Homo sapiens: one gene and its partner. The protein of the gene in region 1 interacts with the protein of each later gene in a pairwise test. Each region holds a gene or a part of one and is shown in the gene's direction. Other genes may lie near its edges.

Region 1 (7,765 bases):
GGCCTGCAGCAGGTACTAGGGCCAGGGCTCGTGGACATGGAGTGGGGGTGGGGGTCAGACCCGGAAAACAGGCCCTCTTGCTGTTTGCTTATCCTCCCAAGGCCTGGGAAGCTGAGGATTTCAGAACCAGGGATCTGAGATCTGGATGGAGTCCCGGTAGCCTCTTGCCTGAAGCTCTGAGCTGAGGGCCCTTAGCACGTGGCTGTCCCTGGTTGTCTGGTCTAGGGTGTGTGAGCAGCCTCCAGAAGGTCCTCAAACTCCCTAAAACTGCCCCCCTGATTTTGAGTGTGAGCATTTTTCTGGGGAAAGGGCCCCAGCTTTAATTTGATTTGTAGAGGGTGTGGCCTGGGGGCCCTAGGGCTTGCTTAGTGTCCTGCGGCAGGTCAGTGGCAGGTCAGCAGCTGCATGGGCCTGCCTCCTGGCCATTGTTCCACACAGGAAGTGGGGGATGAGAGCCAGTGTGTTTCATGGGGTTGGGGCACTTGGCTGGGGTGTGGGTCTGGGGGCAAGATCTTGGGCCCAGGGTCTACCTGTATGGGCCAGGCTCAGCCCCTTGAAGACCCCTAGTCATGGGGGTGGGAGTAGGTCTTGGGAATGGCCTCCGTCTGCTGCCCTGGATGGTGGGTGAGGGCCAGAGCACGAGTGTGTGCCTGGTGCTTGTTTAGGAATAATCCTGGGTGAACTTGTCCAGTCACACCCTTCTCCACTTAGCTTATTAGCTTACTTGTACCCCAGATACTCCCTGGAGGGTGGGTAGGGCTTGTGGGGCCACACCCACTCTGCCGATGGGGAGACAGAGATCCAGAGAGGGTCGAGGCCCCGGGCCAGCATGGCAGAGCTGGTCAGGTGGGTTTGGAGGGCTGAGAGCTGCGTGTCCCCTTCCTTCCCACACCCAGGGTGGGCCCCTAGCCAGACCCTGAGGTGGCCCTGCCCTGTGATCCCCAGGAGGCGAGCCGGCCGGGGGCCCCGGGCTCCGAGCGCATCCTGCTGGACATCCTAGAGCATGACTGGCGGGAGGCGCAGGACAGCAGGCAGGAGCTGTGCCAGAAGCTGCATGCCGTGCAGGGGGAGCTGCAGTGGGCCGAGGAGCTGCGCGACCAGGTGGGGCCCTGCCCGTGCCCTGCCCCTTGTGCGGGAGGGTGTCAGGCAGGGCCTGTGTGCTCACGCCTTCCCTGAGCATCTGCTTGACGCAGGCGCCGCGCTGAGAACTGCATTCATTTGTTCTCAGATGTTGACGGAGGCACCCTTCTAGGCGCTTGAGATGCCGCAGTGAGCAAAACAAAGGTGCCTTTTCCTTGAGGGGGAACTCCAGCAGGGGAGACTGGCAGTATGTGAGATACACAGTCCCACGTCAGCTATTTCATGTAGTCAAAGGCGATGAGCACCGTGGGAGATGCAGAGCTGGGGAAGGGGCCGGTTGCAGTTTGAGTGGGGAGGCCAAGGGTGGCCGGATGGGTGAAATGATGATCATTCTTCTCGTTTTACAGATTAGGCAGTTGAGGGCCTGTGAGGTAAAGTCAGTGGCTCAGACCACTCCACTGGGCAGGAGGGGACTTGTTATTGGGTCTCAGACTGTTGGTGAGCGTCTCTCACTGGCCCTCCTGGGCACCTGCTGGTTAGCTTTCTCATGGTCCCCAGCCCTGTGGTCTGACCCCGCCCCGTGCCACCCTCAGTACCTGCAGGAGATGGAAGACCTGCGGCTCAAGCACCGCACGCTGCAGAAGGACTGTGACCTGTACAAGCACCGCATGGCCACTGTCCTGGCCCAACTGGAGGAGATTGAGAAGGAGCGAGACCAGGTGAGCCCAGCCTGCGTGTACGAGGCCCTGGGCCAGTTGCTGCTTCCCATATGGGAGGAGACAAGGAGCAATGGAGGGGACTAGAATGGTAGAAAGAGACGTTAGCCGCTCCCTGTTGGGTTAGGACGGGGCACAAAGGCTGGGGGAACCAGACAGGAGACCTGGAGCCCTTGAGATACCAGCCTTACACCCTGGACCCACTGGCCTCATCTGAGCTCCTGTGGCAGTTACAGAAGCTGGTCCTGGTGTCTTCATTTTTGAATCCCTTGTTCTGTCCATCTCAAAGACAAGGCCAGCACAGAGGGAGTGCTTACAAATAGAAGCCGATGAAGAAATTCTCAAAAGTTTTGGCTTTCAGTCCCTGGGCACTATGACCCTTGTCTCCTGCCAAGGTTGTGGGGTGGGCTGAGGACCTCCGGCCAGTGCCACCAGGCCCCCGAGCCTCCTTGTGTGAGGTTCCATCTGCAGCGGGGAAGGGCAGGAGGTTTTTGTCCTTAACCAGGTGTGAATCCCACTAGAGGAGTTGAAGTCTGTATATTATTGTTGTTATTACTTTTTGAGACTGAATCTAGCTCTGTTGCCCAGGTTGGAGTGCAGTGGTGCAATCTCAGCTCACTGAGGCCTCCCAGATTCAAGTGATTCTCCTGCCTCAGCCTCCCAAGTAGCTGGTATTACAGGCATGCCACCATTCCTGGCTAATTTTTGTATCTTTAGTAGAGACAGGGTTTCACTATATTGACCAGGCTGGTCTTGAACTCCTGGGCTCAACTGATCCACCTGCCTCAGCCTCCCAAAGTGCTGGGATCAAAGGCATGAGCTCCCATGCCCAGCCGAAGTCTGCATATTAGAAATGCCCTCAGAATCCCCTGGCAAGCTTGAAAGTGCAAATTTGGGGCTTCATTCTCTGGACGTTCTGATTCAGGTGGTCTGGGGTGGGCCCCAGGAATCTGCATTTTATGGGGCTGCCCCCGGCTCTCTCTGAGGCATGGGTGACAGGTCTGGACCATGGGCCCAGCTCTGGAGCCCCTGGTCTTCACTGTGGATGCAGTGGGCTGGGTTTGACTCCTGGCTTCTCCACTGACTGGGATGCTGGGAGTGAAGCCCCTGGCACACAGCAGGTCTCGTGGAAAAGTTTTCAGTTCTTGGTGAAATGGTGAGAGCCTGGATTCTGCAGATGGACTGCCCGATTTGAATCCCAGCTCTGTCGCTCCTGGCTTGGTTTCCCCAGTCTGCAGAATGAGAATAATGATATTAATAGTATCTAACTTAGCCAGTTAGTGTGAAGATATTTAAATGAGCTGATAATTTAGCTCAGGGCCCGGCACACAGTGCTCAGTAAGTGATAGCTGCCATTCTCCTTACTGTCCCCATTCTCCAAGTCATAGGCCAGGAAAGCTGGGCCAAGGTGGCTCCTTCAGCTGCTGCCTCCCCTCCCCCAACCCTAGGCCATCCAGAGCCGTGACCGGATCCAGTTGCAGTACTCACAGAGCCTCATCGAGAAGGACCAGTACCGCAAGCAGGTGCGGGGCCTGGAGGCGGAGCGGGATGAGCTGCTGACAACGCTCACCAGCCTGGAGGGCACCAAGGCTCTGCTGGAGGTTCAGCTGCAGCGGGCCCAGGGTGGCACCTGCCTCAAGGTGAGCGGGTCAAGATTGTGGAGGTCCTGGCAGGAAGGCTGGGGTCCTGGCAGGAGCTCTTGGCCAGGGCTGGGAACGTGCCGGCCCTGGTGGGAGACCTCAGCCAGGGGAGGAAGCTTGGGGGAAGTGGGAAGAGTCCTCAGTTAGGGGCGGGAACTTGAACCCAGGCTGGGCTGGGTGTGGGCTGGTGAGCAGGCGGAGGGGCATGTTGGTCTCTGAGTTTCTGGGGTTGCTTCTGGGACACTAAGAATAGTTTGGAGCTGGTCTTTGCATTTAACTGGGGAAGGCTGGCTGCCTGAGTGCCTGTGTGCATGTTAGAATGCAAAACCTGGGCCTCAGAGACCAGCTAGTCAGGACTAACATGGGCCTAAGCATCCCTCAGAGACCAGCTGGTCTAATCCTCTCATCGCACAGGGCCCAGAGAGGGTGAGGGGCTTGCCCAAGGCCACACAGCCAGCTAGCACTGGAGCTGGAGTCCCAGACCCACTGTAAATTGGATCGTGGTCCTCAGGCTGCTGCCGGGAGCTCTGCTTTTTCCTTTTTTTTTTTTTTTTGAGACAGAATCTTGCTGTATCACCCAGGCTGGATCCCAGGTTCAAGTTATTCTCGTGCCTTAGCCTCCCTAGTAGCTGGGACTACAGGTGCCTGCCACCATACCCAGCTAAGTTTTTTTTTGTATTTTCAGTAGGGATGGGGGTTTCACCATGTTGGCCAGGCTGGTTTCAAACTCCTGACCTCAAGGGATCCTCCTGCCTCAGCCTCCCAAAGTGCTGGGATTAGAGGTGCGAACGCCCAGCCTGCGTTTTCTTATTTTGAGTTGCCTGACAGTGAGCTCCGCAGGCCTGGTGTTTGAAGCACTGGGGCCTGGAGGAATATAGGAAAAGTCAGCATTAATCCAAGACTTTTTTTTTTTTTTAACCCCCAGTGGCTTTTTTGCTGTTTGGTAAAGACAGAGTCCCTTTTCATGGCCAAGAGGCCCTGCGGGTGGGGTTCCTCTTGTCCTCTCGCCTGGTTCTGTGGGTTCCAGTCTTTCAACTGGAATGCATCACAGTCCTGCCTCAGGGCCTTTGCACATGCTGTTGATCTGCCTGGACCATCCCAGCTTGACCTACTTAGCGCCTCTATACCCTTGAGTTCTCAGTTCAAACCACAGTTTCTTTGGAGAGTACTTGGACTCCCAGGCTGGGTGGGGTCTTTGTGTGTTTTCCATGCCCTGGGCACCTTCCTTCTGCTATTGTCTCAGCTTGGGGCTATTTTGTTCACATGTCTGCTGGTTTACAGTTTATCTCCCATTCTAGGCTGTGAGCTCCCTGAGGACAGGGATCTGTCCCTGTGCTGGCACATGGCAGGTGCTCAGTAAAGGACTGTGGTTGACGTGGGCCTAGCACTGCTCACCTCCTTCCTCTCCTCTCCCTCTTCCAGGCCTGTGCCTCCTCCCATTCCCTGTGCTCCAACCTCAGCAGCACTTGGAGCCTGAGCGAGTTCCCCTCCCCTCTGGGAGGCCCAGAAGCAACTGGGGAGGCAGCTGTCATGGGGGGACCTGAGCCTCACAACTCGGTAAGACAACTGCCCCATCCCAAATAAGGGGGGACACTGCTATAGCATTATTACTAATGTGGAGAGTGCTTTCTGAAGGATCCATTTCACAGGTGAGGACACTGAGGCGCAGGGAGGCCAAGTACTTTACTGAAGCTCACCCAGAACCATTTCCTTGCCAGGCATAGGTGCCAGGAGGCGTGGGGAGCCACCCGCACACTATAATCTTGCAGAGCCCGCTCTTCTGCTCTGGGCCCTACTTCTCATTTGTGGAATGGGCACAAACCAGGTGTGCTGAGGACTGGGATGGTGCTGGGCAGTGGGGGTGACCCAGGCCCTGTCATGGCATTGCAGGAGGAAGCCACAGACAGTGAAAAGGAGATCAATCGGCTCTCCATCCTGCCCTTCCCCCCCAGTGCCGGCTCCATCCTCCGCCGGCAGCGTGAGGAAGACCCCGCACCCCCTAAGAGGTGAGATGGCTGGGGATAGCAGTAGACACCCAGGGAGGTGGGGCTGCCGTTTCCCGAACAGCCACCTCCCAGAATCTGCAATGCCAAAGTCAGGTCCAGGCAGTCACTTCCCTTTATTGCCCTCAGATGGCTGGAGCTCTGGAAACCCAGGTCCTGTGAGTCACAGGGGCGACCAAGGTCAGGCTTAAGATAAGGCCGATGGGCAGAGCGAACTCAGTCCTAGCCAAGCATCCTGGCAGGAGGGTCACTGGGGGTCAAGCCTTGAAGATCCTATACCCAAGGAGAAGCTTGATGGTTCAGGACTAGGGGGCGTGGAGAATGTTTCAAGGTATCAGGGACCTCCGGCAAGAAAGCCAGGCCCCAGGTTTGGGCATCAGCAGCAAATAGGGACCAGAAAAACCAAGGCGCACCCTCTGGTGGCAAGACCAAGGGCGGGAGATAGCCTGCCTCCTGGGGCGCGATCCTTGTCACTGCTTTTCCCCTGTAAGCAGCCCTTGATTTATTCCTTTACTGGTGAGAGGCTGGGCCCTGGGAGGCTGTGGTCAGTATGGCCTTGATCTGCGTAAATCTGTCCCAAGGAGGTGTCTGATGAGGAGGTCATGGTTTAATTTAGGAGGCGTACCTGGGAGTCACAAACCACAAAGGTGGCAAGTGAGGGTGAGGTGAGGGGTGAGAGATCAGGGGTGGCTTCCAGGAGGAGGTGGCATTGAAAGAGCTGGCTTTGAAGGGCATGCCAGGGCATTGTAGGTGGAACAACATTGGACAGAGGCCAGGACATTAACTTCTTACCCTGGGAGTTTAGGGGAGCCAGGTGGCATGGGTGCCCTGTACCTGGGACCCTGCCTTGAGTCTAGCCTGCATTTGCTTGGGGGCTGTGAGACATTTATCTGGTGTGGGGGCAGGAGGAGGGAGCGGGGCAGAGTGCCCACTGTGCCTCACCTCCTGCCCCCTCCCTGCCCTCTCTCTGCCCAGATCCTTCAGCAGCATGTCAGACATCACAGGTAACAGCCCTTGAGTTCCGTGGGGAGGGCTCCTCTGGTCGGGGGAGGTGGCTTTGCAGCCCACCTGAAGCCTGCACCACCTGCGCTACCTTTGGCCTGCATCCCCTTCCCTGAAGCCCCGCCGTGGCCCCTGCCAGGCAGGAAGGTTGTGCTTGGGAGGACCCTGGGGACTTTGGTTCCAGCCTCTCACCCCGAGCCCAGTCCTGGGCCTCACTCCTGTTCCCGGCTGTGATGTACGAGGCTCTTCAGTTCTGGGCCACCTTTCACCCTCTTCTGGGAAACTGCGGGGTCAGCCTGGTGGGCCCTGACCTATCTCTGAGCCCAGTGGGTCTGATGTGCTCCTGGGGCCTCAAACCTGCCAAGGCCTCTCTGGGCTGGAGGGGGGTCAGTCCCTGTCATGGACCCTGGCCATCCCTGTTTCCCAGTGCCAGATCCCTGAACCTCATTCTTTTTCCCCAGGGAGTGTGACACTTAAGCCCTGGTCCCCTGGCCTCTCTTCGTCCTCATCCTCTGACAGCGTGTGGCCTTTGGGAAAGCCGGAAGGCCTCCTGGCTCGGGGCTGTGGCCTGGACTTCCTCAACAGGTACTGTAGCTGCCTGCAGTGGGTGGAGCTGGGGTGATTGCTTGAGAGGGGAACAGGAGTGAGGTGGGAGGAGCAATTGCCTCGCCCCTGTTTTATGCAACTATTGGAAGATTAAGATCTGTAGACACTGGCAGCCCTTGGATTCCAATCCTGCTGCCGCTCTTGATCGTCCCTGTGACTTGGGCTGGTCCCTTCACTTCTCTGGGCCTCCATTTCCTCAGTAGCTAAAGGGAGATGATGACCCTTTTTGCATGGAGGTCTTTTGAGGGCTCTGCTCGCAGAAGCAAAGCACCCAGCTCTGCCAGGCATGTAGCAGGTGCTTAGTAATAGTTGTCACTTACAAGCTGTCCTCGTCCCAATGTCCTGCCTGTCAGTCCCTTGGCTCTGAGTCCCTGGGACTGAGCCACCCAGCAAAGTTTCATGCTGTGGGTGGGCTTGGGTCACCTCAGGAGCCCCTGTGACCGGGCCAGCCACAGGTCCATAACAGGAGTCACAAAGCCCATTAGTGCAGAGTGCACTGTAGGCGACGTGCTGTTAGTGTGGCCGGTGCGTGGCCGCTGTTCACACCTGCCAGTGTATCTAAGGGAGGGGTGGGGCAGAGCGGGGGCTGCACGGCCATTGTGGTCTTGGAACTCAGCTGTGAGGAGAGGGCAGGTAGGGAGAGCATCCGGTGACTGTGGAGGAGGAGCGAGGGGGAAGGGCGAAAGTCAAGGCTTCCTGAGTCAGGCTGGGAAAGTGT
Region 2 (7,765 bases), on another chromosome or scaffold:
AAGGGTCACTTGAACCCAGGAGGCGGATATTGCAGTAAGCTAAGATTGTGCCACTGGACTGCACTTCAGCCTGGGCAACAGAGCCAGACTCCATCTCCAAAAAAAAAAAAAAAGAAAGAAAGAAAGAAAGAAAGAAAGAAAGAAAGAAAGAAAACTGGCAAGGAGACGTGAAAAACACTGCCCCTTGTTCAGACTCTAGTCCCACCACCAGCTCTTTCAGACATGCCTATGTCTCAGGACACAGTAACTGGCTGTGTCAGCAGGGGACATGTCAGGCACCACAGGAGTCACCAAGCCTGCCCCTTACTTTGACACCTGTCTGAAAGGAGAGACCCATGTGCGGCTTTATTTCACATAATAAAGGAATATTTCATTCCAGCTTGCTTCAGGTTTAAGAGTGGAATGTGTACATTGCCAGGATGACTTTATAACATTGAGCTACTCAATATGCTTTTTAAAATCATGTTTATGTCATTCACTCCCTATGCCTTAGTAGCACACCTTACTCAGAGTGGATACTCAGAAACGATTAGATCTGAGTTAAGCATTAACATCCCTTCTCCTATGAGGCTTTGAATATCCTCATTTTCCAGCAGCAAAGGCCCAAGCAAGGGAGTAGCAGTGAAAATTGGTTTCCTTACACAAAGAAAAGACCCTAAAAGTCACTTTCCAATCACCATTAGTAGATGTAATTACAACTCAGATTGAAAAGCTGCAGCAGAATGGGTCTAGTGCTCACTCCTTCAGTGAGTACCTATGTAACTTGAGAATGTCATTTCATTTATCTGGACTTTGGTACCCTGATCTTAAATGGGGACAATGGCCAGATGAGTTCTCAGGTTTCTTCCCAAACTAGTCCACTTCCCTTGCTACCATCACCCCTTGTGGTTTTGTGGCTGGATTTACACTGGAGCCCAATTTGATTCAGCCCTAGGGTCACCCCAAGAGGCCAGTGCTATCCATATTGATAACTGGGTTTGCAAGGAGAAAGAAAAGCGATATTTTGAACAGCCCTAGGATAAATGAGGGTCCATATTAAGCAAGTACTACTCTTCATAAATTAGTACTGATAAATAGCCATAATCCTTAAGGAAAAAGAGAATTTTAAACAAAACCAAACCAAAACACACAAGTTTCTTTCTCTTTAAAGGAAAATTGCCAAGGATGCAGAAGGAAATGAAGATGATCAAAGACGAGGATGTGCATTTCGACTTGGCTGTGAAGAAGACCCCCTCCTTTCCCCACTGCCTGCAGCCAGTGGCTTCTCGGGGAAAGGCTCCCCAAAGACACCCCTTCCCGGAAGCTCTCCGAGGGCCATTTTCCCAGTTTCGGTATGAACCTCCCCCAGGAGACCTAGATGGGTTCCCCGGGGTCTTCGAAGGAGCAGGGTCTAGGAAACGGAAGAGCATGCCCACAAAGATGCCCTATAACCACCCTGCAGAAGAAGTCACCCTCGCCCTCCACTCAGAGGAGAACAAAAACCACGGCCTTCCCAACCTCCCTTTGCTGTTCCCGCAGCCCCCGCGCCCCAAGTATGACTCTCAGATGATCGACCTGTGCAACGTGGGCTTCCAATTCTACCGCAGCCTGGAACACTTTGGGGGCAAGCCCGTCAAGCAGGAACCCATTAAGCCCAGCGCCGTGTGGCCCCAGCCAACGCCCACTCCATTCCTGCCCACGCCCTACCCCTACTACCCCAAAGTCCACCCGGGCCTCATGTTCCCCTTCTTCGTGCCCTCGTCCTCGCCCTTCCCCTTCAGCCGGCACACCTTCCTGCCCAAGCAGCCCCCGGAACCTCTGCTGCCCCGGAAAGCCGAGCCCCAGGAGAGCGAGGAGACCAAGCAGAAGGTGGAGAGGGTGGACGTGAACGTGCAGATCGATGACAGCTACTACGTGGACGTGGGCGGCTCGCAGAAGCGCTGGCAGTGCCCCACCTGCGAGAAGTCCTACACCTCCAAGTACAACCTGGTCACCCACATCCTGGGCCACAGTGGGATCAAGCCGCACGCGTGCACGCACTGCGGGAAGCTCTTCAAGCAGCTCAGCCACCTGCATACCCACATGCTGACCCACCAGGGCACGCGGCCCCACAAGTGCCAGGTGTGCCACAAGGCCTTCACCCAGACCAGCCACCTGAAGCGCCACATGATGCAGCACAGCGAGGTGAAGCCGCACAACTGCCGCGTGTGCGGCCGCGGCTTTGCCTACCCCAGCGAGCTCAAGGCCCACGAAGCCAAGCACGCCAGTGGGCGCGAGAACATCTGTGTGGAGTGCGGCCTCGACTTCCCCACCTTGGCCCAGCTGAAGAGACACCTCACCACGCACCGGGGCCCCATCCAGTACAACTGCTCCGAGTGCGACAAGACCTTCCAGTACCCGAGCCAGCTGCAGAACCACATGATGAAGCACAAGGACATCCGGCCCTACATCTGCTCAGAGTGTGGCATGGAGTTTGTGCAGCCGCACCACCTCAAGCAGCACTCCCTCACCCACAAGGTACTGCGGGGCCTCTGGTGGGGCGGACGGGGCCTTGGGAAGAGGAGCGGGGCCCTGAGCAGAGCACTGGGGAGCAGGACGCCTGTGCCGCTCTGCACCTTACCCCGAGGAGGTGGGCAACCCCGGACAAGCGGTCCCTTGGCCGAGCCCTGAGGTCCTTCCTCACGTTTAAATAAGAGAGAACGATTCTCGACCAAGCCCTTTGCCCCAGCAGCCTTCTAGACTCTAAGGTAGGCCTAGAAATAAATAATGCAGACATTTGCAGAGGAGATGAGGAAGGATGCTCCCTAGCCTCCAAGAATCTTGCAGATTCGGTTTCTAGAAACTTCATCCAAGGCACTAGCATGAGTAAGTCATCAGACCCTAGATCAGCTCTGTGCCTGGGATGTGCCAGGGAGCACCTTCTGGATAATTCTCTTCGTCTTGTACTGTTGAAGCAGTGGAAAACTTTTTGGATTGTTTTCTCCCTCAACTGTGAGACCTGCTTCATATGCAAGTTCTCCAAGGGAAGCAGAGCTTGGCTGAGGCCGGCAGGGCCTATACCTCCCTGCGTTGGACCCGTGCCTAGCTGGGTGAAGTGCCCTGTGGTTTACATTGTAGGAGGCATGAGAAAGCATCCTTCTCTGTTTGGTTTTGTTTGATCTTCTCTGTGCTCAGGTCTTCAAGGGGAAATACAGGCCCAAGAGTCTGAGTTCAGCCCAGTTTGCAACCATAGCCCTGGAGTCATTCAGGCTGAACTAAAACAAGGCCCTAGTGGTGTTCCTGAAATCTTACCCCAGCTAAAGTATGGAACCTGCTCTGAGCCTCCGAGAGGGAGTTTTGCCCCCACTGACTCCCACTCTCACACCCTTAACCTCAAGTGGTTTTCTTGGCAGGAAAGACTTCTAGCAAGCCAGAGTTTCTAAAGCATTCTTTAATTCTGAAAGGTCAGGAGAGGACTTTGCCCAGCCAAGATAATGTTTCTGCTGTGCTATAATACGTTTCACTTCTTAGGTTAGGACAAAACACAGGGTATTTTCTGGCTCTGCCACAGAGATGAAATGTGTGGCTGCCTTGTGGGCTCTGCACAAACAGCTCCTGCCCTACAAAAGGTACCTGTAGATACTATCCAGAGGGGAGTCGCCTGCCAAGTGCAGGAACCATCAACAAAGGACCCAGACTGGGATTCAGCCGTAAAGGGGACCATTCGCTAACTTCAGGGGCTCCTTTATATGTGGGAAAGGAATCAAAAGTGCATTTTAGAGCATATGAAGATCCTGTAAGATGGTAGAAAATGAAGTCAAAATGGGAGAAACAGCCTGGTGTCTGAAATAAGTTTCATTTGAATTTTAATTAAAACAAAATACACTTTAATGAGAGGTGTCAGCAAACAGTGAGAGGTAGTATTTGTTGAACACTTGCTATATGACAGGTGTTTCACTCTTCATTTAATCCTCATTTACTTCTCAACAACTCTAAGAGCTACTCCCGATCTGCAGTTGAAGACACTGAGGCATGGGAGGTCACTCAGGAATCTCTGACACAGGCACCTGTGCCTTGGCCACTCTACAGTGAACACTTCCTCTTTTCCACCTGCTTCCCTGTTCGCACCCCTGACCACCTGACAGGCTCCGACTCTGTGATTCCACTGATCCTATCAGAGAGACAACAGCTTCCTTTGTTGCCTTAAAGTTGTGTCCAGGCTCCTGCTCATTTGCATTCTAGGCCAGCCCACAGGTGAATCTTACTTTGGACACAGAATTCTCTTTAAAGAATTCTGAAAACAGTGATAAGCAGAAACGTCTCCTTGGTTTCAGGACAAATGGATCAGATCCAAGCCCAGAGAAAATCTTGAGAGAAGAAAGATGCTGGCCGGGCGCGGTGGCTCACGCCTGTAATCCCAGCACTTTGGGAGGCCGAGACGGGCGGATCACAAGGTCAGGAGATCGAGACCATCCTGGCTAACACGGTGAAACCCCGTCTCTACTAAAAATACAAAAAATTAGCCGGGCATGGTGGCGGGTACCTGTAGTTCCAGCTACTCGGAAGGCTGAGGCAGGAGAATGGCGTGAACCCAGGAGGCGGAGCTTGCAGTGAGCCGAGACCACGCCACTGCACTCCAGCCTGGGCAACAGAGTGAGATTCCGTCTCAAAAAAAAAAAAAAAAAAAAAAGAAAGATGCTAAAATAAAATTTAAAATCCATTAAGAAAATGTTTTTCATTAATTTTATAATCTTAAACTCAGTGTTTGAATATGCACTACATTTTAAAGATTCATCTCCATAGGCAGAATCAAAATTTAATTTCTAAAGGAGGTTGATTTCTAGGTCTCCTTATTAACATAAATGCATACTCATGTACCATCATCTGGACTAGACAGTGCTTGAGTTAGAAAGAACCCCAGGGTTCTCATGACCCACCACTTCATCTTGTGATGAGAAGCCTTCACTAAAAAAGGCCACACGACTCATCTAAGGTTTTACAGCCAGTAAACAGCTGGGCAGAGACCTGAATCCACCATTTAGTACCATGGGCCCACCAGAACTGCAGAGTGGTTCTTTCTTACCATGCCTCAAAGTAAAGAAATGGAAACATAGACAGAGAGAGTCAGAGATGAGCTTGGAATCCCTCCTTCCCTCCTTCAGCCACTATGAATACCAGGCAATATGGATTTCATCAGGTACAGTTGTTAACTAAGTAACTTGTTCTAATCCTATGATAACCTTCAGTTTAGTGCCCTGGTTCTCTAAATTTTTCTTCCCAAAAGTCATTCAGGGTCAAGACCTCTTGCAAAGGCCTTTGTGGGGAAGCAATGGATAGTCAGGATTAGTGAATGCCCGGCTCAAGCTGTGAGTCCCTGGAAATGCTCTCAATTAAGGGCCTTGGTTCAAACACACCTTCATGCACAGCAAGGAAACAAGAAAGCCTCCTGTCCTGTTCCTTAATTCAGAAAGCTACCTCTTGCCAAATTTCTTTATAAGAAGGAGCTGGCTTAGGGAAGGCTCCATAACCATGTCATTGTGGAGGTCAGTGTGGCCTGTGGGAACCCAGGGGACCAACTTGAGAGGGTGATTATCAAGTTGTAATTTAAGTTGTAATTTACTGCAGTGTGGATATAAGTTGTTCTGGGATTTTCAAGTCCATTAATGAGAACCCAAGAGAACATTGGTTTCCATAAGGGAAATGATAATATCATTTTGGAAGATTTTTTTTTCATTATCATGAAAGCTGGATTATGGACTCATATTGCATATCAGCCCATAGTGCTCTTACTAAAAGCCTGTTAATCCTCAAGAACTATCACTGGAGACTTAACCCCAGCAGCAGCTGGAACAACAAAAGCAAGAGCTTTCTTTTCCTCTAATAGTCTGGCTAGTTTATGGTTTTCAGAAGGAAAAAAAAGGTTATATAATCAACACTTTTCAAGAAAATAGTAATTTAACAAGGCTGAAGCTACACCATTTGAAACTCAACATCTATCACCAAGCTCTTTGTGGATTTATGTGGCAGAGAGGAAAATGAAGCCTATGATCCTGATGAAAGCATGTTACCTGTCAATCACCACTTTTCTGAATCTTGCCTCCCTGCAGGGTGTGAAGGAGCATAAGTGTGGGATTTGTGGGCGGGAGTTCACCCTGCTGGCCAACATGAAGCGACACGTGCTGATCCACACCAACATCCGCGCCTACCAGTGTCACCTCTGCTACAAGAGCTTCGTGCAGAAGCAGACCCTCAAGGCACACATGATCGTCCACTCTGACGTGAAGCCTTTCAAATGCAAGGTGGGCAGTGGGACTAGAGAGGAACCAGAGGGTTGTGCAAATGCCTGATGGGAAAGGGTCCCCAGGGAGCCTTCTACTCTGTTTCATCAGTGGGGCTACGGGGGCTCAGAGTAGGTCCGTGGCCAACCCCAGGTCCCATCTGCCACTCTATCCCTCTCTGCACGCCCCACTTACATCATGCCAGGCTGGAGGTCCCTAAGGAGCCTGCCCTATTTGTCTCACTGTGGCATCCATGCCCAGGGGTAGAGCCAGGCACTAGGGAAAGGTCTGAGGGTGGAAGGCCCTTTTGGAGAAGGAGGCTGTTAAAGGATGCAAGTAATGTGGAGAGCCTTTGTTCTAGAGAGGAGAAGGCAAGTTTAGCCTTCTTCTCCTTACAAGGCAATGAGCAGGACATAGAAAAGAGTCAGAGAAGCTTCTAGCACAGCTTCCCCCCCACCCACCGCCACCTCCTCTCCTCTCCTTGCCTCTTGACACTTGGGCTGAGCCATATGTTTAGTTTGAGGGCAGGCCTCCTAGAGACGGTGAGAGGGATTCCAAAGCTAGCCCCTCAGAGGCCCTCAGAAATGCTTGCTGGGGCTGTGGAATAACTGCGAGCACAGTCACTTCAAGTGCCTTTCACCTATTGCTAAGTGCCATGTAGCACAGGGATGGAGCATCTTTGTTAAAATATCTGTTAGACTAATTTGGTTGGGTTTGTATTTCATCAGCCGAGAAAACGTGTGAGCTGGAGATTTGTAAAACCCAAGGCGCTGACGGGCATTACTCAGAAATGCTCCGGCTCCCCGAGGCTGTCCCCACCCCACAAGAGTGTTTCCTCTCTCTACTTCTAAAATGAGGAGAGAGCATTGGCCATGACTGGGTTTAATCCGAGTGATGTACTGGCCAAGTGTCATCCGGTCATGAAGAAGGCTGAGGGGGAAGAAGAGGGAAATTACCACATTCAGATATCGTTACAGCCCTTCTGTTTGAAATGGAGGTTTTTTCTCTCTGCTACTGGGTACCTAATCGGGTTCAAATGATACTCTGCTGATCTATATTCCTGAAGTGGGGTTCCCTGTTTCCAGGGACTGTTCCTGCTTTAATACCTCTGCAGTGTGGCCCCACTTGAAGGAATCCCCTGTGAAGCTGACTTCTTTCCTGTGTTGGCAACTCTTGGAAGGGGTGAGGGGTCAGACACCAGAGCTTCCCTAGACCTGTGTGGGCATTGTCCAGAGGTGGGAGAGGGAGGCTTCTCCCTCCAGCCCTTTTCCTGCCACCCACTTCTGTTTCCCCTCCTTTTCTTCATATTCCCAGTGGTTCGAAAGTCAATTTACATCCGTCTAAAGCAAGAATCAGCTTCATGCAGCACAGGCCACATATTTTTCAGGACTCAATGCAAAATGGAAATGCAAGGCTCCTTGTTCAAACATTACCAGGAGTTAAAGATGATGGAAGCAGAGCATTAAGCCAAACTCAGGAGCTTTCTGACTATGGGACCTTGTGTTGTATGCCCATGAAGTGAGGCCTTG

Evidence for each region. The genes of interacting proteins can lie anywhere in the genome.
Region 2: the proteins of CARD10 (region 1) and ZNF366 interact in binary tests that used the Homo sapiens proteins (3 or more experiments, as listed by UniProt).

Annotation. Positions count from the first base shown.
Region 1 is NC_000022.11:37,501,863-37,509,627, reverse strand, and holds part of CARD10 (caspase recruitment domain-containing protein 10), read left to right. Parts: intron 1-945; coding exon 946-1,101; intron 1,102-1,673; coding exon 1,674-1,799; intron 1,800-3,244; coding exon 3,245-3,436; intron 3,437-4,858; coding exon 4,859-4,993; intron 4,994-5,326; coding exon 5,327-5,442; intron 5,443-6,414; coding exon 6,415-6,443; intron 6,444-6,902; coding exon 6,903-7,026; intron 7,027-7,765. UniProt on the Homo sapiens protein: Scaffold protein that plays an important role in mediating the activation of NF-kappa-B via BCL10 or EGFR.
Region 2 is NC_000005.10:72,454,896-72,462,660, reverse strand, and holds part of ZNF366 (zinc finger protein 366), read left to right. Parts: intron 1-1,150; 5' UTR 1,151-1,164; coding exon 1,165-2,496; intron 2,497-6,065; coding exon 6,066-6,257; intron 6,258-7,765. UniProt on the Homo sapiens protein: Has transcriptional repression activity. Acts as a corepressor of ESR1; the function seems to involve CTBP1 and histone deacetylases.